Linked DNA regions of Homo sapiens: region 1 is linked to region 2. Evidence: fine-mapped expression QTL. A gene starts in region 2. The other region holds a variant in brackets. All regions are shown on one strand. Distances are from middle to middle.

Region 1 (16,886 bases), 73 kb after region 2:
GAGGCAGAGTCTCACTCTGTCACCCAGGCTGGAGTGTAGTGGCGCAACCTCAGCCTCTCCAAGTGCTGGGATTACAGGCATGAGCCACCACTCCCAGCCAATAGTGAATTTTCTAAGAGCATGTATCCCTATCAGTAACAGGGATACATGAAGATACTTATAAAATACAGAAAAACTGCCCAGCAAATCAGGGCCCTAAACAGTTGGTAGATTCCATAAATTCAACTGGCTACCATGTATAGCCCTCACTGTAAGGTAGGTGGTTAGGTTTCTAGAGAGCATTAGTCTTAGAATTATGAAGAGCCATATTAACCCAAATGATTTCTAAATTTAGATATATATTTTCCCTGCTACATAAAAACTCTGGGTAATAACTAGAAATAGACCCACAATTTAGAGACAATGTATACTAGATTTATCTCCTTTGTTTTTAGTTGAAGGCAAAAAAAAAAAAAAAAAAAAAAAACTATTCCAGTTGTCATCACAAATAAATGCCAAATGCCTCATATTCAGCGGTTCATTACAGTGTATAAAAAAAAACTGATCATTTCCCTAGTCAGTGCTGTTATCAATATAAAAGATTAATTTACAAAAACGTAAATATTCATAACCCAATCCAGCTGTATTTTCTGCTTTTGCACCACAGGTCAAAAGATATTTTAAAAACTAAAACCTGAAAGCCTCAAAATAAGCTAGATTCACCTTCACCTTACCTTTTCAAAAGGAGAAGGGCCAAACCACACAAGAACTGTTTACCTGCAGGAAGTTCAAACACATGACCAGCATCTGCTAAGTCACTTCCCAGTCTTCACAAAATACAAGCTGTGATTGATTTGTAGGTCAAATCTATAAAAATATTTTGCACACTTAAGTCAGAAGAGCTGAGAACTAAATTAGCACTCTGTTTCTTTGCTGTCAACACGATTCTGACGCTGCAGTTTAAAGGAGGCAGCCTTTTCACTTCTGGTGACCGGATGGTCCGTGAGATCCTCAAATGACTTGGCAGCTGTGCTGCTATTTGGGAAGGGGTCCTTCTCAAACCCATCCTCGTCCATATGTGAGTCTGTGCTGGGGTCTTCCTGGATGGTGTCCATTCTCTGGTGGTCCAGTTTTGGAGCTGCTGGCGCCGAAGGGATCACAGGGGCAGGCTGCAGGCGGCCTGGAGTCTGGGGCGCAGGAAAGGGTTTGATAATGCGAACCGATGCAGAATCCATGCTGCTCAGCATTTCGACGTTCTGCAAAGACATGGGTTCAATTGATTGATAGGAATAAAAGATGAATCGGAGGTCCTCACAGCTCCACCCTTACCCATCAAACAGCCTCTTATTCTGTTGGCACTGTGATGCTAAGAAAAAAGTGCTAGGTGAGGCTCACTCAACCTAAGTGACTAAAAAATACTAGGTTGGTGCAAAAGTAATTAATGCCATTACTTTTAATGGCAAAAACAGTAATTACTAGCTTTCAAGCATCCTGAAAACTTACTTACCATTTGAAGACCCAAAAGAGGATTCAAACCTCTCAAGGTAAGATCCCAAGAGAGAAATTGAACTCAAAATATTAACTAAGTGTTGAATGGCTAAATCACTCCTTATGGCTTGGGAAGGGGACAGCACAGCTCTTTAAATGTCCATCCATGCAACTAATCGAAGTTCACCATCACTGTTGTCAGAAGGGTAAACATTCCAACCTAGACCCTTCCTGCTGCAACATGACCTTCCATCAGCCAGTGAAAGCTCTTGCTGGGTCAGGTGAAGGTCTTTGCCTAACAGGGCCTCAGACCAGGCGAAGATTATGTTTCTTTCATATGGTATACTTACACTGGGGTGAAACAGAGACAGAGATTCATACTGTTTATCCAATTTCTTATCCTAGAAAGAAACAGCAAGAAGGTCATTCCCTACAAATACAATTCAGTTAGTGAGTACTATTTCATCACAGGCTATTCCTAACACTAACTGAAGAACTTAGAACCTGAGTTGTAGAAAGTGATAGCAGGCTCAACAGATGACAATCCATTTCTCACCCAAGCTTTAGTTATGCCACCAGTCTAGAAGTGTTTCCTTTGCACTCAAAGGAAATACATTTTGGCGTTAAGTACAGAAAGAGGCAAGGTTTAAGTGCTATGTTTTCTGAGAAATTTATCCCTCTGTGGGCAGGGGAATAATAAAGGCATCTTCCTGTGCATGAAATGACAAATGTCCCAGATGCTGGGTACACCAGGACCGCACTGACTGGAAGGGCAACTGGTAGGAAGACCCAGGTGGCTGGGCCTGCAGCATTCTTCGCACTGCCCCGGCCCATGGCCTCACTCTCTTAGCTGTCTCCACAGTTTCTGTGGACCATGCTCTGCTGGAGGAACTGGGCCTCAATCCCTACATCCTACTTCTGCAGAAGGCTAACCACATGGCCATCTGCTGCCCCATCCCTGCCTGTGGCTGAAGCATAATAGGTGACAGAGGGCAAGGACCAAGAATCCAGGACTAGGCTTCCTGTCTGGGTGCCATCAATGCATTCTATGACCAAAAACAAGCCATGGCCCTCCCTCCTATCGGAGGCTTTGCTCTGAAATCAAGGGTCGTGCCTTGTCCACATGTGCAACTTCCCTGTAAACAAAATAGGTTCCATCCTCCAATAGAAGCAATCGTGATGGATGGCACTGTCATCCAGAGACATCTGTCAAAGCTTCAAGCACGTCACCTTCAGCTTTCTTCAGCACAAGTGCTCCCTAGAGATCTTCCTATACCCATCATGCTCACCACCCTGAGGAAGAGCTGCTCTGTGAGATGGCCCCTAGGCAGGAGAAGCCAGCAGGAAAGGAAAGGAAGGAGGCAGTAGGAAAAACTCCTTTGTCATCAGAGTTGTGCTGGAATTTTTAAATGCTCATAGGAAGGCCACTATGAAAGAGTTTGGGAAAACAAGTCTGGAAGCCTGGGTGTGACTTTCTCATCTCTACAGCAGACAAATCCCCATTCCCCACAGATGCAAGTGAATGGATTCGTAAGAACATTTATGAAAAAGGGCCTCAAATTTATAAAGGACCAGGAGTTCCTTAGTCAAAGCCCAATTCAACTTGTAGCTGTTACTGATTCTGAATGAGAACAGAAAAGACTGCTTACTCTTATTTTTTGGGGAAGATGTAAATACTCTATATGACAGCTGGGCCCCAGTCCCTACATCCTATTTGTGCAGAAGGCTGAAGACATAGCCATCTGCTGCCAATAATCTACATGATATATGGGGAACATCTGAAATGCCGATGTTTGATATTTGCTCTATTGCAACGAAGTCAGCCTGAAAATGCTCTTCAATAAGGGCTTTACTCATCAAAGGACCTGGACAAATCCAGTTAAACAGTCTCCTATGCTTAAAAGTATAAAATTCCTAAGAAATTTATATATTAAAACACCAACACACAAAAATAGTATTTTTTTTAAAAGACCATTAGTTAAGCTTTCTACAAGACATGTTCCCCTAGGAATAACAACAAAAAAAGCTATTGGAAATATCAGGCCAAACTTTGCTAAGAACAAGTTTTACCTTTTCCAGAGATTACATGGTTGGAGTTGATCAAAATTTAAATAAAACATTTAATTACTTAAAAGTTGATGACTTACCACACAATGGACAAGAATGCTGAAAGGAATCCAAAATATCAAGGAGAAAACCAGGACAGACCCAACGATGTTGTCTGCTAAAAACTTTCCTGTGAACAATTCCAAACAGTTAATGTCTTGACCAAGTACTTCACAAATCTAAAGTGAAATGCTCTTAGGATATTACCATTGTGTCAAATGCCAGAGCTGCTGGCTAGACATACTACCGAGAGCAGAATGTCTGTGCTGCCTGTATTACACCACACCATCTCTCCATACCAAGTGCTTTTAAAGAAATAGCCCTCATATACTGGCTGACAGGAAGAGATTGCAGAATATTCAACATGTTACCTGGAGTAGCTGTGTCAACAGATTAATATGGAATGCTACTACTAGTAAATGCTTAAGAAGACAAAGTTTTTGTTACCTGGATATTATTTTTGTGATTAAATTATGGACTCGTGACAACATGATATACCCTGCTTCTGCAAAATATGAGGCTCACTTTTACATCAAGCAGGATTCAGTATATAGCATTCAGTCAAATAAACACTCTTACATCAATCAGGATTCAGTCTATAGCATTAAACTATGCTTATGCTAATCACATGGATATTTTTGGGTAAAGAAGGAAGCCAGTATTTTGACTTTATTTCCCTTGTCAGAAAATCTGTGCATCCAAGCTCCACGGGGACAGACTATCTATGAGTTCATTTTATTCTAGCCAACAAAGTTGTTTCATAACTAAAGCTGTGAATAGTTCCACCTTCTACTGCAGAATTAAAGCACATCACTCTGAAAGCACACTTTTCTAATGTCATCACAGAAATTGACTCAGCTCTCAGTAAGTAATCTGGGGAAATCACCTACCAAAAGTATTGATGCTCAGCTGGTCAATGAAATCCCAAAATCGTTCAATTACATCCTGTACTCGTTTCTCACATTTGCCCTATGAAGAAAAAACATACATACAGCATCATTCCCAAACACAATGTATTCAGAAGCAATGTAGCTTTATAAAAATAACTGACATGTAAAGGGCTTCATTAAAATCAAACGTTTTCCCATCTTTGACACAAGGCAATAACTTCCGCGTAATGAGTACCCAAGAAAGTAGAACATCTGTCATTAACACTTTCATAATTACTCCATTTTTACAAGTGATTTAGAATTACCAGGAGACAAAAATCAAGGAAACCAGTTTGCTAAAGATGAGGCATTCCAGTAAGGACTCTACACATACACAGTGGACAGTGAACAACACAGCCAGACTCCCTGTGAAGCCTCGTAAATCTTAAAACCCTCTCCCATCATTCTGCATGAGAAAAATTATGCTTCTCTAGAGAACAAAAGGGTCTGGCTTAAGTAAGTCAAGCAGCCTTCTAGGTCTTTCCTACTCATTCAGCACCTGTTTCAAAATCACACCCTGAATAATTTTGCAATCTTAGTCAGTTCTGTAAGTAATCTAGGAAAACATAATTAGGACCCACTGCCTGAAACCAACCAACTTTACCATAAAGTCCCCACCCCAGTCCTTCTCAGTCTCTGGGCTCAAAGCCTCCCACCACAGAAGGAAACTACAGGCAGGGACCTGAAAGCACTCCGTCTTCTCCTCCTAAGTAATACCCGTAGATAACAATGGGCCAGAAGGATGTAGCCCCACTTGTGTTTTGATTTGTTTTCATCTGCAAAATCAAGTACTTACAAAATAAAAACTTCCTATCTGGCTGTTACAGAAAAAGCTGTACATAAATACTCACATTCATGTCACAAAATCCTACTGTACAGGGCTTTCCTTTCCTCAAAAATAAGTTCTTTTGTTCAGCATCGACATAGGGCACACAGCGGCCAGAAAGGTCCCTGCAGCACACCTTGCAGGAGTTGTCAGTTTCTGGAACAGAGAACACGCATTGACAGCTGGATTGTTCTGAGACCTGCCTCTCCTCCTGCCTCCTCTTTCCTCCCTGACCATGCTCCCAAAGAGGTAAGAAATCACATTTATTTTTTATTTAAATAGCTAATACTATCCATAGCCCCCACCAAGGAGTAGTTTCTGAGGTCACACTCCTCAGCCTTCAGTGACAGAGGCCACAAGGTTTAAAAAAAAATGCAGAGAAAAATCCATTCTAGATTCAAGACCTCTCTTCAAAGTCTAACTATTCTCTCCCCTTCAAGCCCCTCACAATGCTCTTCTAAATGCTTCCCTTTGTCCCAACTTTCTTGTCACCCTGCTGACTTCAATCCTTGGTTTTTCAGTCTAAAGTGTGCCCCTCAGGGCCCACACTGGCTCCCTGAAAGCGAGAGCAGCTGGGACACAACTGTCCACCCTTGGGTGGGGAGCTCAGTGACCCCAGGAGCATGAGCCCTGCAGCCAAAGCTCCACAACTCCTCCCAAGAACAGCTCTGACAGGTCACAGGATAAAACACCGGGCATCTGTGAGCCATGTGGGCATACATAAGAATGGCAGAAATGCCAGAAAATTAAACCATACTTAGGAGAAAAAGAAATCAACTAGAACACAAAAACAAGCAAAAAGAAAACCTTTTCAGAAAAGGCCGGGAGCAGTGGCTCTC[G/A]CTTGTAATCCCAGCACTTTGGGAGGCCAAGGCGGACAGATCACTTGAGGCCAGGAGTTCGAGAACAGCCTGGCCAACATGGCAAGACCCCATCTCTACTAAAAATAAAAAAAATTAGCCAGATGTGGTGGTGCTTGCCTGTAGTCCCAGCTACTCAGGAGGCTGAGGCACGAGAATCACTTGAACCCGGGAGGCGGAGGCTGCGGTGACCTGAGATCGCGCCACTGCACTCCAGCCTGGGCGAGAGTGAGACTCCATCTCAAAAAAAAAAAAAGAAAACCTTTTCATCATTCACTAATTTATAAAATATTTCTTGGACTTTTACTGTGTCGGGCTCTGTCCTTCCAGAGCACCCCAAGCCTCTTGGCATTCAACACAACAGATTTATTTGGCATCTGCTACGTGTTACCTTTTTTTTTTTTTTTTTTAAGAGGTGAGGTTTCACAATGTTGCCCAGGCTGGTCTCAAACAACTCCTGAGCTCAAGTGATCCACCCACCTTGGCCTCCCAAAGTGCTGGGATTATAGATGTGAGACACTGCCCTCAACCTATCTTCTTTACCTACACATTATTGAACTTGGAAGAGTTCCTCACTCCACTGTATGGATGGTGAGCTTCCAACCCAGTGATTTTATTTAACTACCGGGTTCTTTGTCTTTTATTTATTTTATTTTTTACTTATTTATTTATTTATTTGAAATGGAGTCTCGCTCTGTTGCCCAGGCTAGAGTGTAGCGGCGCAATCTCAGCTCACAGCAACCTCCGCCCCCTGGGTTCAAGCAATTCTCCTGCCTCAGCCTCCCTAGCAGCTGGGATTACAGGTGTACGCTACCACACCCGGCTAATTTTTTTTATTTTTAGTAGAGACAGCGTTTTGCCATGTTGACCAAGCTGCTCTCAAACTCCTGACCTCAAGTGATCTGCCCACCTCGGCCTCCCAAAGTGATGGGATTACAGGTGTGAGTCACCACACCTGGCTCTCTGTCTATTTTGAAAGCAAGAGAACTCCCTCATCGACTCCCATGGTTTAAGTGGGGTGGGAAGCAGAGTCCAGCCAGTCCCTGACCAGTCCATGAGGATGCCCTCAAACCCAGGGGTTCCAAAATAGCACAGAAACCTAAGGAAAACTGACAGGCCAGCAGGAGAGAGGCTCCTGCCCCAGGCTGCTCTAAGAGATCAGAGGGGAGCAGACCCAGCCTTCTTGATAACTGCAAAAATCCTCATCTAGTGGGGTTAGGTCCTGGAATCAGCTCTCTCTGGTGGAGTTGTTGCAGGAGTATCCTAGTTCCATGCCAATGTAATGTAGATAGCTACTGCTGCTTTTGTGGTTTGTATGATATGGAGCAGAGGAAGGCTAGGACACACCTCTACCTACCCACCCACTCACCCCCAACAAAATTCCCTCCTCTCCCACCTCAAAGCCTGCCATATGGCCTGAAACTGCAGCAAGAAGAAACACCAACAGGATAGGTCTCCCAGGTATGGTGGATCTGCATGCAGAGATGCCTGTCTCCAGACACCACCCTGCCCTTCCCCATCCCCTCATCCTCGGCTTGGATCTCACCACTGCTGTCATTCGCACAACCTCCAAATGGAGGAAGGGAGCCTGGCAGACAAAGGCCATGTTTTCTCCTGCTGCTGGACTGGGAATAAAACTGCTCACCATTACATGCACAGGACTCCAGCTGCTGTTCCCTCTCGCAGAAAGGGATGCATTTCCCATCCTTACACTTGCCAAGATCCAAGCAAACAGTGTCATCTTCAGCATTTCCTGGAGGCGGGCACTCACTGCTATTACCTGGAAGCAAACACCAGTCATAACAAAAAGAATGAGTCACAGGTCCACCAGTTCTACAGGTGCATAATACGCTGTTTCTCATACAAGTGAGCATCTTACCTTGCAAAAGCAAAAAGTGACCTACAGAGCTAGGACAAGAGCCTGCATCTCACCAGCAATCAGCATTTAAATGGGAGTGCCTGGCTATGTGCCAGGCTAGGCTGCATGAGTCCCTGGCCTCCCAAGCCCCAGTTAGAATGCATGGTCTCCACTTCTGCATCTCACAGTCATATATAAAAGAATATCCTATGTGCTATTACTTAGAATAAATTGCAAACTTTGTATGAAGGCTTAAAAGAACTCCACGGCCTTCCCTATCTGGCCCTGACTTCATCGCACACAACTCTCCCACAGCCCACTGCTTTGGCTATGACAACCTCCATTCAGTTCCTTCAATATTAACAGATACTATTCCTTCTACCTGGAATGCTGGTGTTTCCACTCTTTTGGGGCAATTAGCTGGCTTTTCTTATGGATTAAGTTTTGTCTCAAAGGTTTTCTGAGATATCCCTGAGGATGCTAAGTTGATGTGGCCTCCCACTTCCATTATGCACTATCACACTCCTTCTCTCCTTCATTGCATATGTTTTGCAATTTATATATATATATTTAATGTTATTTTCTGTTTTCCCTCTACTAGACTGGAAAGCCCCATGACAGCAATGATCAAATCTATTAAGTTATCTCCAATCCCTATCATATTATAGGTATACTACAAATATTTCTTAAATAAATCAATTATTCTTTTTATTTTTCTTTTGAGACAGGGTCTCAGTCTGTCACCCAGGCTGGAAGGCAGGGGTGTGATCATAGCTTACTGCAGCCTCAAACTCCTAGGTTCCGGCAATCCTCCTGCCTCAGCCTCACAAGTACCTAGGATTTCAGGCGTACGCCACCATACCTGGCTAATTTTCTTTCTTTTTTTTTGAGAGACGAGATCTCCCTGTGTTGACCATGCTGGTGTAAAACTGCTGGGCTCAAGGGATCCTCCCACCTTGGCCTTCCAAGTGCTGGAATGATAGGCATGAGCCACTGTGCCCAGGCCAATAATGCCAAAGAAAACCCACCAAAGAAAGTTAAACTGGGAGAGACAGGATGGAATGAGTGAATCATTCTGGAAAATGAATAGCACAAGTAGCTAAAAGTCAACACAAATAGAGGAGGAGAAAAAAAACACTTTATGAAAGCAATGGACTATATATCCACAGCTCTGGACTGGCCTTTCAGCTGAAGAATGAAGCCAATCAAAAGAATTCTGACTTAGAGGGTTTCAGAGCAGTAACACAAAATGTACAGAAAATCTGGCCAGTTTCAAACAAAAGTGATGGTTTATTAAGTACCCAACAGATAACCAGGCACTTTGCCTCTGGTTCTCATAAAACCTTTCATGAGCACTGGGCATTCATCATGTCAACAGTCATTTAACAAACTATTACTGAAAGTATGATGTCCAGTGAGCTCAGGGAAGGTTTATATTGTGGATCATTATTGTATTTTTGGTATATGATACTGCCCTGATACATTAAAAAATGCTCAATAAATATCTGTTGAGCATCTGTTCTTAAAAGACTAAAGTCAGAGTATTAGACAGGTAGGAAAATAATTCTGAAAATGGTATCATCTATCTAGCATGGTCCCCAAAGTTTAGCATGCATGGAAATCACCTGACAGAAGGTTACACAGCACAGACTGCTGGCCTCCCTTCCCACATTTTTTGATGCAGTAGATCCAGGGAGGGGACTGACAATTTCCATTTCTAATAAGCTCCCAGGTGATGCTGCTGCTGCTGGTTGTGAAATGCTAATTGCTTTTTTTCTTTCTTCTTCTTTTTTTTTTTTTTTTTTGAGGTTGTTGTTCTCTAGCTTTTCCTGCTAGAAAATACTGATTCCTTATCAGGAACTTATCCTCTGCTATCTACTATTTTGTATAAAATATCAAGGGAACAAAAGGCTGTTTGATAAGAACAAACGTTTTCAAATTGTTTTACTTACGTTTATTTAAAAGAAAGCATTTTTCTCAATCTATTTTATTATTACAGTGAAGATGAAACATTGAGCATAGCTAGCAAATGCTTCTTTAAAGCTTGATTTAGATATTCAGGTTCCTAACATTTGTTTTTTTGGTTTTTTTTTGAGATGGAGTCTTGCTCTGTTGCCCAGGCTGGAGTGCAGTGGCGTGATCTCGGCTCACTGCAAGCTCCGCCTCCCGGGTTCACGCCATTCTCCTGCCTCAGCCTCCCAAGTAGCTGGGACTACAGGCGCCCGCCACCACGCCCAGCTAATTTTTTGTATCTTTTAGTAGACACAGGGTTTCACCGTGTTAGCCAGGATGGTCTCGATCTCCTGATCTCGTGATCTGCCCACCTCGGCCTCCCAAAGTGCTAGGATTACAGGTGTGAGCCACTGTGCCGGGCCATCAGGTTCCTAACATTTGGCAAAGTAATGTGATAGTGACAGATCCCAAAAGATAAAAACATGGGCAACATGTCATACTATGCACACGGAAAACCAAAATCAAGCCAAAATAGGACACAACTTCATTCACTAGGTCCCTGAAGACCTCCAGCTTTCTGTTTGCATCCTTATCACAAAACCTAGGATAGTTACAATAAAAAAGATAACAAGTGTTGGTGAGGATATGGAGAAGCTGGGACCCTCATACAATGCTGCTGAGACTGTAAAATGGTGTAGCCATTTTGGAAAACAGTCTGACAGCTCCTCAAAAGATTAAGCATAGTTACCACATGACCCAGAAATTCTATTCCTGAATAATATCCAAAGGAACTGTCCACACAAAAACTCATAGATAAATGTTCACAGCAGCATTATTTGTTATAGCAAAAAAGTGGAAGCAACCCAAATGTCTATCAACCAATGAATGAATAAACAAAATGTGGCATATCCATGCAATGGAATTTACCCAGCAATAAAAGTACATGAAGTACTGATACATGCTACAACATACATGAACCTTAAAAATGCTATGTTCAGTGAAAGAAGCCAGTCATACAATATGTGGTCACGAAACCATATTGTATAATTCCATTTATATGAAATGTTCAAAACAGACAACTCCATAAAGAATAGGGTGGTTAGTGGTTGCTCTGAGTTGTGGGGAATGGGGGGATTGGAGGATCATAGCTAAAGGATACAGGGTTTCTTTCTGGAGTAATGTAAATGTTCTAAAATTAATTGTGATGACTGCATAAATCTGAATATACTAAAAATCATTAAACTGTACACTTTAAATGGGCAAACTACATGAGTGTGAATTATGTATCAATAAAGCTATTACAAAATCAAACCAACCAACCAAGAGAGACAAATTTTGAAAAATATAAGAATGGGACAGATAGATATATCAGAGGAACAAAAAAACTAGAATAGCAAACTGAATATTGCTTTTTGACAATTTAAGTCAAAAAACATCGCAAGGGTAAAAAAGGAACATTATATACTGGTAAGGAACAGCAGATAAAGATGTAGAGATATGTCCGTTTATATACCTAGTAATAACATAGCTTTGAAATTTTTAAAGCAACAATTGACCGAACAAAAGATACTGGACACCTGGAAAGGTTAGCTCCAGAAAGATTCAAGTCCTGAATGTAAAAGGACAACTTATGAAGCTAATAGAAGCAGCTGTGGAAAATATCTTTTTAACCATCCGCCATGGCTTTTCTGAACCATGTGTTTAAAAAATACACACACACAACAAAATGATGGATTTGATTACGTTAAAGATTTCTGTTCTGAGAATGGCAACAGATAGGAGACGTATGCCCAAATGGATGATTACATAAGAACTCCTCCAAATTCACAGTAGTGAAATAACATGAAACCCAATTTTTAAAAAATGAACCAAATATATGAACTGGCTATTCACAGGAGAAATCTGAATAGCTGAAAAATATAAAGAGATGCTCAAGAAAAATGTAAGTAAGTGCATTAGGACAAGGGCTGTTAAAAAAAAAAGTAAGAACAAGAGATTACTTTATACTCATCATGCTAATAGGACAGCAGGGTAATTCCAAGCGTTGGCCAGAACGTCAGGATAAGGAGTCCTCAGACACAGGCAACCTAGCAGTGGTGCTCTAGAGACCAGCACATCCTGCCTCTGTGACTACACAATGACACTCCTCAGTACCCAGAGAAACACACAGGTTCCTGAAGGGACGTAGGAGGATGTGATCTGTGTCCTATCTGGAATATCAAGGGGATGAAGGCAATGGAAGTAGCTACCACTTGGTGACTTGTAAGTAAAACACAGCCAATCATATAACTAAACAATATGTAGGTGTCCCCAACAGTGAAATACATATAGATACATATAGAAAAACTGGTTACCCTTCTAACTTGTATCCTGCTTCCTCCACACTATTCCAGTGCATAGATTCATGATAACATTCATTATCCCAAGATTGTCATTTTGATTGTTTCCAAAATTTTGCTATTAGGATGTAGCCATTAAAAACCTTGTTATATTATCTGTAGCACAATATGGGTAATTCTTTAAAACATGATACTGAATTTTTTAAAAGTAAATTTAAGGTAGAATATCATTTTGGCACATTAAAAACACATACATGCACAAAATAACACTATATGATCTTTCAAGGATATACACATATCCAGGCAAATATTAACCACAGTAGAGTGGATGTCTGTGAGGAGAAAGAGGAGAGTGATGGAAATGAAAGAGAAATAGAAACAGGTCTTAAACCCACCAAAGCCAAGTGTCACAAACTAAGGAGTGCCAGAAACTCAACCCGGCATATGAGATTAAAAATAAGGTGTCTCTCATCTGAACAAAACATAATCTTGTTTTTCAAAGACACACACACACTTGACCCACAGCATTCCAAGGAAGCAACAAGAACACGAACCTGTGCAGTAGGACACGCCTTTGCAAGTAGCATTAATCGCCTCCTGGCACTTCTTCTGGGCAGTCTCAAACTGACAGTTTTTACAGCAAGGACTGTTCCTGTCACTGGAGAAGAACAGCAGACAGGAACAGAGCAATTCAAATTATGGCCCCATATCAAATCAAACGCTACAGTTACGTTACAGTGACCTGAAGATCACCGGGGAAGACCTCCTGGCTCCGTCACCCACTCCTACATCATCAGACATCTCCGCTGCTAGAGCTACCTGCACACACTTTGTCCCTTCCTAATGTGCGTGAGGTCACATAAATGCCACACTATAGGAGAAAAGAATGGGAACACAGCAATCACCTGTGAAACATCTTGGTGCCCTTGGTTTTCATTCATTTAACGCATTAATTTAAAAAAGACAAGATGGGCTGGGCGAGGTGGCTCACACCTATAATCCCAACCCAACACTTTGGGAGGCCGAGGTGGGTGGATCACCTGAGGTCAGGAGAGTTCGAGATGAGCCTGGCCAACATGGTGAAACCCCATCTCTACTAAAAATACAAAAATTAGCTGGGCGTGGTGGTGCGCTCCTGTAATCCCAGCTACTTAGAAGGCTGAGGCAGGAGAATCGCCTGGACCCCGGAGACAGAGGTTGCAGTGAGCCGAGATCGCACCACTGCACTCCAGCCTAGGCAACAAGAGAGAAATTCTGTCTCAAAAAAAAAAAAAAAAAAAAAAAAGATGAGGCAGGTGGACCACGAGGTTAGGGGTTTGAGACCAGCCTGGCCAACATGGTGAAACTCCGTCTCTACTAAAGATACAAAAAATTAGCCGGGCATGGTGCTACATGCCTGTAATCCCAGCTACTCGGGAGGCTAAGGCAGGAGAATAGCTTGAACCTGGAAGGCAGAGGTTGCGGTGAGCCAAGATCGCGCCACTGCACTCCAGCCTGGTCAACAGGGCGAGACTCTCTCAAAAAAAAAAAAAAAGACAAGGAAAAAAAAAAAAGACAAGGTGGGGCCACAAGGCAATCCATAGCTAAGACACTCGGCAGCCAGAACTCTACTCCCCATCAGTATTTACAGCGTTAATATGCACTGTATCCAGTTAAATCTCAATTATTCACCAGAAAACTGAAGTTTAACCCTTTTACTTCTAAGCCAGGCACTGGTCTATCAGTGTATATAAAAAATGAAAACCTGGGTAACTTTCTAACTTGTAACCTACTTCCTCCACACTATTCCAGTATATAGAATCATGATAACATTCATATCCCAAGACTGTCATTTTGATTGTTTCCAAAATTTTGCTATTAGGATGTAGCCATAAAAAAACCTTGTTAAATCTTATACCCTTGTTAAATCTTATCTCTGTTGCCCAAAAGATTCTTTGGGCAGCCAGGAGCAGTGGCTCACGCCTGTAATCCCAACACTTTGGGAGGCTGAGGCAGGCAGATCACGAAGTCAGGAGTTCGAGACCAGCCTGGCCAACATGGTGAAACCCCATCTCTACTAAAAACACAAAAATTAGCTGGGCGTGGTGGTGCACACTGTAATCCCAGCTACTGGGGAGGCTGAGGCAGGGGAATGGCTTGAACCCAGGAGGCGGAGGTTGCAGTGAGCCAAGATCACGCCACTGCACTCCAGCCTGGGCGACAGAGCAAGACTCCGTCTCAAAAAAAAAAAAAAAGAAATAAAAGATTATTTGGGCCAGGCATGGTGCCTCATACCTAGAATCTCCACACTTTAGGAGGCTTAGAAGGGTGGATCACTTGAGCCCAGGACTTTACAACAAGCTTGGGCAACATGGCAAAACCCCATCTCTATAAAAAATACAAAAAAAATTAGCCAGGTGGCACACACCTGTAGTCCTGTCTATCCGGGAGGCTGAGGTGGAAGGACTGATTGAGCCTGGGAGGTTGAGGCTGCAGTGAGCCATGATCATGCCACTGCACTCCATCTTGGGCAACAGACTGAGACCCTGTCTCAAAAAGAAAATAAAGGCCAGGCACGGTGGCTCCCCTCTGTAATCCCAGCACTTTGGGAGGCCAAGGTGGGCAGATCATGAAGTCAGGAGATCGAGACCATCCTGGCCAACATGCTAAAACTCCGTCTCTACTAAAATACAAAAAATCAGCCAGGCGTGATGGTGCGTACCTGTAGTCCCAGTTATTGGGGAGGCTGAGGCAGGGGAATCGCTTGAACCTGGGAGGCGGAGATTGCAGTGCGCTGAGATCGCGCCACTGCACTCCAGCCTGGCAACAGAGCGAGACGCCGTCTCAAAATAAATAAATAAATTAAATTAAATAAAAAAGATTATTTTGCCAGGCACGGTGCCTCACACCTGTAATCCCAGCACTTTGGGAGGCCAAGGTGGATGGATCACAAGGTCAGGAGTTGGAGACCATCCTGGCCACCGTAGTGAAACCTCGTCTCTACTAATACAAAAAATTAGCCGGGCATGGTGGTGCGTGCCTGTAGTCCCACTACTCAGGAGGCTAAGGCAGGGGAATCACTTGAACCCGGGAGACAAAGATTGCAGTAAGCCAAGATCGCGCCACTGCACTCCAGCCTGGCGACAGAGCAAGACTCTGTCTCAGGAAAAAAAAAAAAAAAAAAGATTCTTTTAACTATAGGACTGCTAAACCAAGGAGCATGCAAGGTCAAGGATTTTGTTACATAATGTCACACTGCTTTCCAGAAAGCTTCTTCTTTTCTTATTTGTTTTTTGTTTTTTAAGAGATAGTGTCTCACTATGTTGCCCAGGCTGTTCTCAAGCATTTCTCCCACCTCAGCCTCCCAGAGTGCTGGGATGACAGGAGTGAGCCACCGTGCCAGGCCCAGAAAGCAATTTCTTGCTGTGAAGGGCAAAAGAGGTAGATGTAAACAAACACACTCACACCCCTTTCAGTTGATTCTAAAGCCCCTGCAAGTTCAGTCTTCTCTTATTTTGGACATCTTGTTATACCAACTTCCCAAAATCCCTGTGGAGAGACTCCTCACCTGCACTGGACACCTTCCTTCAACGTGCAGTCGCTGTTGCAGCAGGTGTCGTTGTTCAGATACATGATGCCAGGATCACACTCTTCTCCTTCATCCACCCTCGAGTTCCCACAAACTTTATTGCTGCGTTCTTGAAAACACTCCTGGGCCTTACTTTCAATGGTCTTATAGATTGATTGTTTACTGCAGTTTGAAAACATCTTGAGAGAAAAAAGGCAATAAGGACCCAAAATAATATCATAAAAATGTATTCCCATGCAATGTTTGTGTCTTCTCTAGAGACAAACTCTTAATGTAAAACCACCATCAGAGCCACCCTGGAGTTATGGCAAGGCCACCACAGTCTCCTCCAAAGGCCACTGATATGGAACTGGGAACCTCCCTCCATAGAATGCTAAATGGCTGATGTGAACTTGGTTAAGGATCTATAATTCTTCTTACGAAGGTAAGCAAGCTATACAAATACTGAGACCAAACATCCCAGTCAAAGCCCACTTAAGGACAAGCAGAATAGCACAACAGAGAGCTCGTAGCTCCATCAGACTTGAAATCTCCTCACCTCAGGCATGCCACTCATGCAGTGACAAGAATTAAGAACCTCTGTAGGTTAATGTTGTCCCAGACAAAACAATTCAGAAATGCAGGAGAAGGGGTTTCTTCTCCTTCTTTGGCTACTTATATGGATGATCCAAGTTTAAAGTTGTTTAAATATTTGAGCTTAGTAATAGGCATAATAGTACATTTTATATAAATTAAATCCCCAATTGTTACCTAAACATTTTCATCAACCAGCAAGACCAGTGTCTCAAAAAGTCTCTACACTACCTTCCCACCCTGGAGTACAGAACCACTAGGATAACTCCCTTTTAAGGCTGAGGGTTTTATCAGGAGCTCTAAAACTGCGGTCATTTTCCAGACCTCCTGAAGTTATCAAAAAAAGAAGAGGCTTAGGGAAAACTGAGCATAGTTACTTCTTAGGTCGGGGTCTCCAAAGTGCTCTGCAG
Region 2 (11,420 bases):
ACTACTGTGTCGTTTTTTGCCCTTGCGAAACATTTTTCACCACCATTGCTTGATCCAGAGAAGATCCCCTGAAAAAACAAATATTGGTAACAGTTACATCGGGAAAAGCAACTTTTTTTTTTTTTTTTTTAAGAGACAGAGTCTTGCTCTTACCCAGGCTGGAGTGCAGTGGCACAAACATGGCTCTGCAGTCTTGACCTCACACCTCAGCCTCCCCGAGTAGCTGGGACTACAGGCATGTGCCACTACACCCAGCTAATTTCATTTTTTGTAGAGACAGGATCTTGCCATGTTGGCCAGGCTGGTCTCAAACTCCTGCTCTCAGGCGATCCTCCCGCCTTGGCCTCCCAAAGTGCTGGGATTACAGCTGTGAGCCACCATGCCCAGCCAGGAAAAGCAACTTTGATATTGGTTACAGTTACATCAGGAAATGCAACATTAAATCACTTTATGCAAAATAGAAATAAAAATCATCAATTAACTTTTCCCTTGGATACTATTCCTTTTCATTCTTTCCTATTAAATTATAGAAAGTTAACCCAATAAGCAAAAAAGGCAGAAACCTTCTTGTCCTACAGGTGTGAAAAGCACTTTTCTCAAAATTTTCAGACACGTCACCTAGTTCTCAAAATTTTAAGGGCCTTACTTCTCTTCAATTGAGTCAAGATTTTAGCAAAATATACTATGACACATTGGCTTTTCAGTCGAGATACTAAGATTCAGTAACCCTCTCAGTTTCACATTCTATACTTGGTAGGGCTAAGATATACACACCTCTCAGAAATGTGCATTTTTCTTGAAGTTTTGAAATACCTTTAAGTAAAAGCTGACACAAAGACATTCCCAGGTGCCAGCACCTCACCTCCCCTCTCTATTAAGCGTAGTTAAGGAGATGACCTTGCCTCCCAGAGTCTGTGTTACATATTTCTTTTTTTGAAATTAATAATAATAAATGCATTGGAAACTAAGATTCATCCTTGCCAGTTGCATAAGGACAGCATATACTATACTTGGCAAATTAACTAACCTACATGAAGCTGCACAGCTCACAGAACTCCCGGGACAGTTCTACTGTCATAGCCTCATGATAACCTTGTGACATATCCATTTGCTCTACTGATGCTTTTTAAGGGCATACCATATGCCACACACTCTGCAGGGCTCTAAGCTCTCCCTCAAGGGGCTCACAGAAGGTGGGCTGTAATCTGCCTTTTACAGATGAGGGAACTGTGACCTGCCTCTCAAGACGATTTATGAATAAGATAACCTGATCAATTTTTTACCAAAAACTGTATTCTCCAGAGAGAACAAGAAAATCTGCTTACTATAGAATTGAACACTATTTGACTGTCTTCAAAGGTCCCACATACAGCGGTCTGCACAGAGAGTTTCCTTTCATTCTGACCTGGGTGATGCTTTTCAGAGAAACTACGCACCTGATGAAGGAAAAAGAACGAGCAACTCACGCAGCAGTCAGTGAAAGCTCCTGCTGCAACCCAAAGATTCTCCGTATTTGGAGACCCCACTCTAAGTCCACTTACTAGGGGACGACATTAGGCCACTTGCCCAAGTCTGACCACTGAGCCCAAGCTTTTTAATCAGCCTCATCATCCAATTTACTTCTATATTTTTGCTTTATTTGTGGGGTACCAGGAAAATCTGATTTATTCATTCATTCCTGGATAGTCAGTGAGCACCTACCAGGTGTCGGGGATGCATCAGTGAACCAAACAGAGCCCCTGACCTCAGGGAGCCTGTTCTTAGCGAGAGTAGACAGACCAACAAGAAAAACACACATGAAACATATTATTAGGAAACCACTGCTATGAGGAAAACTAACACAAGTTGAGGAGACACAGACTAATGGAAGGAAGGGGTGGGTATTTCAGAAAAAGATGCTGTAGCTCTTTTTCTGAAAGAAGTGCGGGCAGCCATAAATAGCCTGGAGGCAATGCCGTGCGGGTGGAGAGGGGCCCGAGGGAACAGTCAAGGCTGTCCGGGAGCAGGAGGACAGCAATGGGCCCAAAGTGCCACAGAAGGCCAGGCAGGCCGCGGTAACAGTGGACTTTAGTTTAAGAGGAATACTCTGAAGGCTTTTTATTTATTTTTTGCTTATCTGCTGTGATCTTCTGGAATGGAGGCTTTTAAAAAGCAGTTTAGCGACACAATCAGGTGTCTTCTGTTTTTTAAACGATGACCCTGGCTGCCAGATAGCGAACTAACTCCACTGGATAAGGGTAAAAAGTGAGAGATGTGTTGGAAGAAGACTGCGGGTGATTGCTGCAAAGGGGAACCTTACCAGCACAGGACACTTGTCAGTGAGAGATGGCAGGAGAGCCTTATTCCAAGGCCTGCACGAAACTAGGTTAACGTAGCAGCATAAAGTGCCATGTTAATGGCGCTCACGGGTTAAAATGTTGATGTGTAACATATTTAAACATCAGATACTTAAGTATATATAAATACATATTTATATATAGGTAACAATTTTAAATATGATTTGAATTTTAAATCAAAACTTATTTTAAAAACAAAATGTGATTCTACTGTCAGTGGAATCCTGAAGTGTCTCCTCAAATCCCTTGATATGAAAATCATGACACGACAATGCCTTAGCAACTCCTTAAGGCTTTCTTTTCATCATCAACCCAGCGGCTTAGGAAAAAGCAGCATTTATTAAAGTCTTTGATATCTGCTGCAATTTTGATGCATGTTCTCAAGCAAATCATTCTTGCCTCAAAATTATTCATGGGTGGCTCACGCCTGTAATCCCAGCACTTTGGGAGGCCAAGTCGGGCGGATCACGAGGTCAGGAGATCGAGACCATCCTGGCTAACATGGTGAAACCCCGTCTCTACTAAAAATACAAAAAATTGGCTGTGCGTGGTGGTGGGCGCCTGTAGTCCCAGCTACTCAGGAGCCTGAGGCAGGAGAATGGCGTGAACCCGGGAGGCGGAGCTTGCAGTGAGCCGAGATCGCGCCACTGCACTCCAGCCTGGACGAAAGAGCGAGACTCCGTCTCAAAAAAAAAAAAAAAAAATTATTCATGCATCAAAATGAGGCCAATGATCCTGATTGGCGATTGGATGCTCCGCAGGCTCATCAAATGCAAAGATGTCTCAAGCTGAACCCATCATCCTCCCCTCCAGATCTGCTCCTCTCCTCTCCTCTCCCTGTCAGGAGATTCTATTATTGCTGGAGGAAGCCAGAAAATCATGATTTCCTTGCTGTCCTTCAGGCCCCACATCCAATCTGGCACCAAGACCCACTGTATACCCCACCTGAAGAGCTCTCTGAGCCAGCTCTCCACCAGGGCCCCCGTCATCCTAAACCATGGGCACAGACACTATTTTTTTAGAAACTGATGAATGTGATGGATCCTCACCCTATAAAAATGCACATCCATACAAAGTTTGGCATGAATTTAAGGAATTCACAAACCCAAGGATATTTCGTGGATAAGGGACCTTGTCCTACTGGATTCCCTAACACTTTAAATCTACCCCCACACTGCAGCCAAAACGATTAAAATGATTTCTTTCAAACATGAATCTAATGCCACTAGCCTGCTGAAAATCTTTCACTGGTTCTCCAAAGTCAGAGACCAAAGTCAACGTTCTTCAGCACGACACGCCAGGTCCTCCAGGACCCAGCTCCTAATCACCTTTCCACTTCCATCCTCCACAACCCGGGCACAGTTCATTGATCTCAGCAAGGCAAAGCTGCTCCTGGTTCTCAGCGCGATGCTCCACGCGCCCCTGCTTTGCACCGCCCGGGACGTCCTTCACCTGTCAGGCACTTGGCTACTTCTTACCTTTCAAGGCCCGTTTCAGGCTGCAGGCCTTCCTGGGATCTCAAGGCTGGGGTAAGGGACCCACAGCTTGAGTGTACCCCCTGATCACAGCGCCACGATCTGCTGTGGTCTCTGATCTCACTCTCCCAGCTGCACGCTGGTCAAAGGCGGAGCTCGGTGACTCCTCTGCATTGCCAGGGCGCCTGGCAGGGGACGCGCTTACTGAAGCCGAGAACTTTCTGGGGAGGTGACACCCCAACAGCGATTCCCATGTACCAAACGCCTACCACGTGCCATGCACGGTGCTAGGTGCACAGATCCCTCTCACCCTCACCCTCACCGACCAGCAAGGCTGCAGGATAACAGCCCCTTTCAAACGAGGATGCCAAAGCGCCCGAAGAGTCAGTGACCTGCCCAGGGTCACCAGAGTAAGGACGGATGCGGCCAAGCTCGGGGCCTAGGGAGAGCCGGCTCCGAAGTTCCTCCCAGACGCCAGCCTGCTTGGCACCTGTCTGTCACCGTGATGGAGCACCTTCCAAGCGCTGGGTGCGGAGGATGTGACAGCGAAGGGGACAGACAACCCCGACCCTGAGAGGCGGGAGGCGGCCGAAGCGGGGCAGAGGAAGAGGCAAGGAAACGGCCCGCGGCCGCCCGCCTTGCCGCCCCTCCGGGGCGACAGCGGCTCGGGAAGCTGCAGTCCGCAAGCCCACGCCCGATCTGCGTGGTTCCAAGCTCCTCCACCCGCGCCCCGGGAGCGCGGCCCCGCCCGGAACCAAGCCCGAGCCCAGGCATCCCTCCTCCGCCCGCCCCGCGGCCCCACCCATCCTTCCTGGCCGTCCGCGCCGCTCTCGGGACCGTGTTCCCGTCAGGCCTCCGCGAGCTCGGCCCCAAGCGGGACGAGGGCTGGGCGCTCACCTCGCAGCCGCGGGCCCATCCCCGGGTTGCGGACTTCGGGGTCCGCGTGGGAGTGCCGCGGCCTTTGGCGCCCAGGCAGCTACTCCCGTTCCCGCTCCAGCGCCGGCTTTTCCAGCCCTCCTGCCCACGTCCGCCGGGCCGCGCCTCCAAGACTATGCGCAGGCGCAGTCCTGACGTCCTACCCCCGGTTCCAAGACCCCAAGTGGTGGGAAGCCTCGCGAGCGGCGTCCCCCGACCGGAAGTCGAGGGGAGGAGTCTAGTGCCGCGGGCTCCGGAGTGACGGAAGTTGTGCTCTTGGTGAATGGGGTTCTTCCTTTTTTATTTACCGGTGGCTGTGCTTCCAATTTAGGAAGACCCCGGCGACCTGTTCCTCACCCCCGCTTCGCCCTCACACTTTCGGGATGTCTGCGATTCCTGCTGAGGAGAGCGACCAGCTGCTGATCCGACCCCTGTAAGGGACCAGCGAGAGAGGGAATGAAGCCACGGGCTGTGAGGGGCGCGAGGGGTAACCGGAGACTGGCCTCCTCCGTCGCCCGCGCTCCCACCTACCCCGGCAGCCTGCCTTTGGTCCGCGCTTGCGGGCCAGGCTTCTCAGGCTCGAGGGGTTGGAGGACCGTTGATCGGAAGGGGCCTGCTATAGAGTGAACGGGATTTTGCTTTTTCATCAGTTTCAGGGGAGGGTATGTTGGAGTCGGAAAAAAAAAAGTTTTACGGGGCCACCGCTCGCTTTCGTACACGCTAAGAAGCGTTTTCACTTAGCACAAGCACGGATCTCTGCGCGTCAGGGCAAGCTGTGAGGGAGCCGGTGAAGCTTATGACCGACAGGATGAGAGGAGGACCTGAATGAGGCTACAGCCGTGCAGGGAAGAATTAAGTCTGTTTCTTAACACCAGGGCTTCACATGTGCCAGAAGTTAGAAAATATTAGGGACTTGCCGTGAGTTTCGATCTTCTCAGCTCAGGCCCTAGTAGAATAAGGAAGGTGTAAAGCTGGAGAAGAGAAAGTGCAGAGGTGTTAGGGACAAAAACTCAGCCCTCGACTGTCCATAAGGAGAGTGGCCTTTCAGTGGACACGATCCTCATCAGTCGGGAATGCTGCTGAAGGGGAGATGCAAATGTAGAGAACTTGAATTCCTACAGATGAGCATTTCGAACCCACAACATGTTTATTGTTAGATACTAGTTGGCACAACATGAATATACGCTTTCCAAAAGGTAGAAAGTATCTCCTTTACACAATCATTCAGTAAGGCTTCATTGAGCACCTGCTTGGGACATAGTCCGTTTCCTTCTGCTTAGTTCACACCTGTCATGTCTTCCTGTGATGAGCAAACACTGAGCAAGTGTCAAGCACCACACATGGGGATATAGACGCAACAGAGGGCCCAGTTAATTGCTCTCGCTCTTTTGGAGAGAATTACAGTGCACAGTGGGAAATATTGGAGAGATACTTTGGAATAATAGGAGACTATTACTTTGAAGTCAGACCTGAAGTCCATTATCTACTTGACCAATTAGTAGGACAACAATCTCACTGAACCCGTTTTCTCATATGGAAATAAGATAAAACTTGAAGAGTGAACATCGCGGTAGGTGCTTTGTAAATAATAGCTAATCTAAGAACGCAGGCAGGCATTGCACTGAGCACTGTGAAAGTATGGAAAAGGGATTTCTGACAGATTGAGGAAAAAAGGATACCTCGTGGATCCTGAAAAATGTGATGCCTGAGCTGAGTCCTAAAGAATGAGTAGGAGTTAAAGACTGGGGGGCCCAGGATGTTCTAGGCAGTGGAAGTGGCACATATGAAAGTGAGAGTGGTCACAGCTTGTGGCCAGATTCCTCATGGCTGTAGCTAAAGAGTTGAGTTAGCAGATGAAGCGACAGGCAGTTGAGGTCCAGTTTAGGAAGCACCTCGTATACACAGGAGTTTGGACCTTTATCAAGTCAATTACAGGGAGCCAGCGAAGGCTATTAAGCAAGCATGGATATTGTGGGAATTATGTTTTAGGAAAATCTCTCCTGGCAGCAGTGTAGCAGATGAATAAAAGCATGGATGAATAAAAGCATGGATTGAGTAGAGCAGATTCAGTGAGATATTGAAAGATTCTAAGTCTAGCTGACGAGAGCCTGTAGTGAGTGATGTGAGTGTGAGAGAGTATGCAAATGAGATCTTCAGGATTTTGTGGCTGATCAGCTGTATCTGGAAGGGTGGTTGTGGGGAGGGAAGGCAGGGCAGAGAGGATGTTATGATCAGATTCCTAAGTTTGGCAGTTGGGAAAGGGTAGTGTTATTCACTCAAGGAGTATAAGAGATGGGGCAACTCTGGAGTAAATTTGGGAATTTGGTTGTTTCGTAACAGCTTTATTGAGATACAGTTTACATACCATACAACTCACAATTTACATACCATACAACTCATTTAAAGAGTATAATTCAGTCGTTCTTAACATAGAGTTATACAACCATCACCTCTCTCTAATTCCAGCACATTTTCATCACTCCCAAGAGATACCTTGTATTCATTAGCAGTCATAGACAATCCCCACTACCTCTCCAGCCCTAAGCAACCACTAATCTACTTCTTTATAGATTTGCCTGTTCTGGACATTTCATGTAAGTGTGATCATACAATACATACTCTTTTGTCTCTGGCATCTTTCATTTAGCATAATCTTTCCAAGGTTCAAAATTGAGGAGTTTTGTTCATTCAATAAGTATTTTTTGTGATGTGCTACATGCCAGGTACTGTAGCAATACAGCAGTGAATAAGATGGACAATGCCTCTGTTCTTAGGAAGCTTTCATTTAGTAGCCTGAAAGAAGACATAAGTAGGTACAATAACTTCATGTAGTTGTATTAAGATAACTGATGCTGGGTTGTGGCTTGCTGTGAAGGGCAAATTAGAGGAGGTAGTCAAGGGAAAGCATCTGAGAAGGTGACGTTGGAACTGAGACCCAAATGATACAAAGGAGCCAACCACATCAATATCTGAAGACAAAGCATTTCAGGAAGAAAGTAGAGCAAGTACGGGGCATGTGGTGGAAACTAGTTTGGCATCTTGAATATGAAGTCCCGGGAGAGATCCTAGTAGAGATACCTAGTGTCACGTGTATGTATTAAAGGTCTAGAATTCAGAAGAACAATCTGGGTTACAAATACAGGCTTGGAAGTCCTTAGCATGTCAGAAAGATGAGAATGAAGATTGAGAAGTTGGCCAAGGAGCAAACCCTCGGAATATCAACATTTAAAGGGTAGGCAGAGGTGGCTGAATATGTGAAGGAAACAGGAAAGCCAGCAAGACAAGATGAGAGCATCAGGTCAGAGAAGCCAAGGGAGAGGTGCTTGAGGAAGGAGCAGGTACTCCTTAGGAGTGACAACGGCTGCCAAGAGAACAAGATAGGGACTGACACCTATAGTTCCAGCTACTTGGGAGGCTGAGGCGGGAGGATCACTTGAGCCCAGGAGTTGAAGGCCAGACTGGGCAACATAGGGGGACCTTGTCTCAAAAAAAAAAAAAAGACTGAAATGACTACTGAGCAGCAAGGACAGTTTCAGAAAAGTGATTGGTAAAAGCCAGAGTATAGCGAATTGAGGAGCGAGTAGAAGGTGAGGAAGTACAAGAGGGTCCACTGCCCTGGGAGGTGGTCTGGGGAAAGAATAAAGTGGGAACTAAAGGAGCTTAGAGTCAAGGGATTTTAATTTGGGGATGAACATGGCTGTAGTATGTTTAAATTTGGATTGGATGGTAAAGAGCAGACAGTGAGGAAAATGTCAATGACACAGCAGTGTTGAGTTCCTCAGAAGGAGGGAGGGAGTACGTAGAGTAGAATGGTGGAAAGTTTCATTGTGGAAAGAGAGGTCTATTCTATCTATAGAGGAGAAATAGAAGGAGACAGATGTGGGCAGGTTGGTACCCTGTTGGTACATGTATTCTTAATTATTGTACCAACATGAAGTTGAGGAAATTTACAAATGGACTGTTTATTTTTTTGATGCAGAAGATGGCCCATGCCTCAAGTGAAGAAGAGGATAGAAGGTTGGAAAATTTGGGAAAGGGAAGAAAGTTTGAAAATAGTTGATATGGAAATGAAATGGAGAAAACAGCCAGGCAACATTGAGGGCCAGTTAAAGTGGAAGGCCAGGGTATCCACAATAATTACAAATAAAAAATGTTTAAAAAGTGGAAGGCCAGGAATTTATGGCGGCTCTCATCCACAGTTGTTTGATCTTCTGTATCAACACCTGTTTGGAGGTAGGATCTCAGTTTGGGGATAGATCCATTGCATGTCCATCTGACTGAGTTCCTTGAGGTCAGGGTCCCTGTAAGGCATTTCCATGTCCTAGGCACTTAATCCAGTGCTTGGCAAATAGAAGCTGCTTAATGTTGAGTGAGTGAGTGGATTGTGAGCTAGAATGGTTGGGAAAAGGCATCAAAGAAGGTGAGGGATTTGAAAGATGAGGTTTAACTTAAAGTGTGCCTTGTGACCATTGCAAATTATGGCTGAAATTATTAAGAAGAAACAAAAATTATGTAAGTAGTTGGTATAAAATATGCTGAAATAACAGAAAGTAGAAGAAAAAGTGATTGAAATTCACAGTATGAATAAGTATTTTAAAAAAAAAAATTTTTTTTTTTTTTTTTTGAGGCAGAGTCTCGCTCTGTTGCCCAGGCTGGAGCGCAGTGGCGCGATCTCAGCTCACTGCAAGCTCCGCCTCCTGGGTTCACACCATTCTCCTGCCTCAGCCTCCCGAGTAGCTGGGACTACAGGTGTCCGCCACCACGCCTGGCTAATTTTTTGTATTTTTAGTAGAGACGGGGTTTCACCGTGTTAGCCAGGATGGGTCTCGATATCCTGATCTCGTGATCTGCCTGCCTCGGCCTCCCAAAGTGCTGGGATTACAGGCGTGAGCCACCGCACCCGGCCATTTAAATTTAAGCCATTTGGCAAATACACATTATGATCTTAAAGAAGATGACAGTGTTGAAATGCTTATGGCTTTCTACTTAAGTGCTAATTCTAGAAGTATTATTATATAATCTGCGTAACTGCTAGTTTACATTTTAAATACATTATAATTTAATCCTAAAATTCAGAAAATTGAATTTAAATCAAGCCCAAACCTTTGGGCTTCTTGGATCTGTACCGCCTTCTCTCTTAATTTTAAGAACTGCAAGATCCCTGGACTCCCAAGGATCAGTTTTCATCTGTTCTCATGTGGACACTGTTCTTCCCTGTCTTTGTGATTTTGTAGAACTCTCTTACGTCTCAGAATTTTTCAGTGAGGTGCTGTCATCAGATGGCATGTAGTGTACATTGTAAAAAAGTGTAAGTTTATTGGACTTGGTTTTGATTTTTTTTAATCCTTCTTTTTCTCCCCTTGAATATTTACAGTGGAGCTGGGCAAGAAGTAGGAAGATCATGTATTATTCTCGAGTTCAAAGGAAGAAAAATAATGGTAATTACTATTTTTGTACTCAGTTTAATAGTATGGCTCTGTCTGTATTGGGTGTTAGTCTTTTCTCATAGACTAGTTATCTTTTTAGCTCCCAGAAAAATGTTATAGTACATGTAATCTATGCTGTATAGTGTTAATGAGAAAAACTAATACACACTTCTACTTAGTAATTTAGTTGATTAAGAAGATATATTCTATGACTGTAAAATTGTCAGCTAGATCTGTTGAACTGTTACCTCTTCAAAGTCCCTCTTCCACTCCTGAAGGGTTGAGCCAGCCTAACTGCCCCACCCCCAGTGGAAGATCCCAAGGGCCCAAGCACTCTGAACACACTGAGAGCTCTAGCCGCCTCCAGCATGTGGGGATCAAGCCTTGGCCTAGAAGCTTGGATCCCCAGGTCCCACTGGGGCTGCCGGCCTTGGCCAAGTCACTTTGCTTCTCTAAGCCTGAAAGGTAGAGGGGTTAGAGGAGATAGTTTCTAAGGTACTCATTAGAAAGTCAGTTCTGTGTCTCAGATTCCTTTGATTCCTCTTTCTTCTCAACTCCTCCCAATCTGAAAAGAACATGTATAGGTCAGACATAGTCATCCTTTTAGTCATCTGTTTTGTTAATTTGGTAGTAACGCCATAAAAATAAGTAACTTTAATGACTGAGTCTTAAGAATTTGTTCCCTAATGCCTTAAAATATTTAAATTACCCTGATCAGGTAAGTTTCCCATTTCTAATTATTATCTTCTCACGAGAGTCGATCTGGTAGTAGTAAATCTATAAACTTTTAAAATTTTAATCTGATATCAAAGTTTTTGAAAAAGATTTAATTCGTTGTTAGAATGACGACCAAAAGTAGCTGGAAAGAAGCTGTTTTGTACTTTGCATCCTGTGACCCCTAAATGTGAGCTATATTTTAAATTTGTTGGGAAGTTAGAATTGTTAATGGCATATTTGCCACATTTAATAAGAATCATGTTCCAAGTGCTAGTGCCTGGAGTCCATCTTGAGTATATGGGTGATGGAACTAGAATTATTGCCTATTTGCCGAATGAATTTTAATAAAATGTGCAGGAGATTGTGATCTCTTTTCCTGTTTCTTTCAGCTCGACTGTGGGATCCACCCTGGCCTAGAAGGAATGGATGCTCTTCCTTATATTGATTTAATTGACCCAGCTGAGATTGATCTCCTATTAATTAGTCAGTAAGTTTTTCCCTTTATTAATGACACTTTTTCACGGACTTTTACTATCAAGATCATTCTTTAC

Evidence for each region. PIP is the estimated chance that this variant, and not a neighbour inherited with it, causes the effect.
Region 1: its variant is fine-mapped to the expression of ITGB1BP1 in whole blood (TOPMed, PIP 0.92).

Annotation. Positions count from the first base shown.
Region 1 is chr2:9,489,284-9,506,169 of GRCh38, forward strand. ADAM17 (ADAM metallopeptidase domain 17) reads right to left here. Exons shown (of 19, transcript NM_003183.6): 12 at 15,883-16,082; 13 at 12,890-12,993; 14 at 7,831-7,965; 15 at 5,354-5,484; 16 at 4,464-4,542; 17 at 3,615-3,703; 18 at 1,818-1,868; 19 at 1-1,235. The coding sequence ends at 894. It overlaps IAH1 (isoamyl acetate hydrolyzing esterase 1 (putative)), which reads left to right. Exons shown (of 6, transcript NM_001039613.3): 6 at 1-459. Among named protein-coding and RNA genes, the nearest start is that of IAH1, 23 kb to the left of the region's middle. The variant G/A (reference allele first, on the strand shown) is at 6,168.
Region 2 is chr2:9,418,665-9,430,084 of GRCh38, forward strand. It overlaps ITGB1BP1 (integrin subunit beta 1 binding protein 1), which reads right to left and starts at 4,864. Exons shown (of 7, transcript NM_004763.5): 1 at 4,709-4,864; 2 at 1-68. The coding sequence starts at 33. It overlaps CPSF3 (cleavage and polyadenylation specific factor 3), which reads left to right and starts at 4,990. Exons shown (of 18, transcript NM_016207.4): 1 at 4,990-5,159; 2 at 10,101-10,164; 3 at 11,259-11,356. The coding sequence starts at 5,110. RefSeq lists enhancers at 3,315-4,173, 4,167-4,216, 5,087-5,136, 5,177-5,226 and a silencer at 4,357-4,656.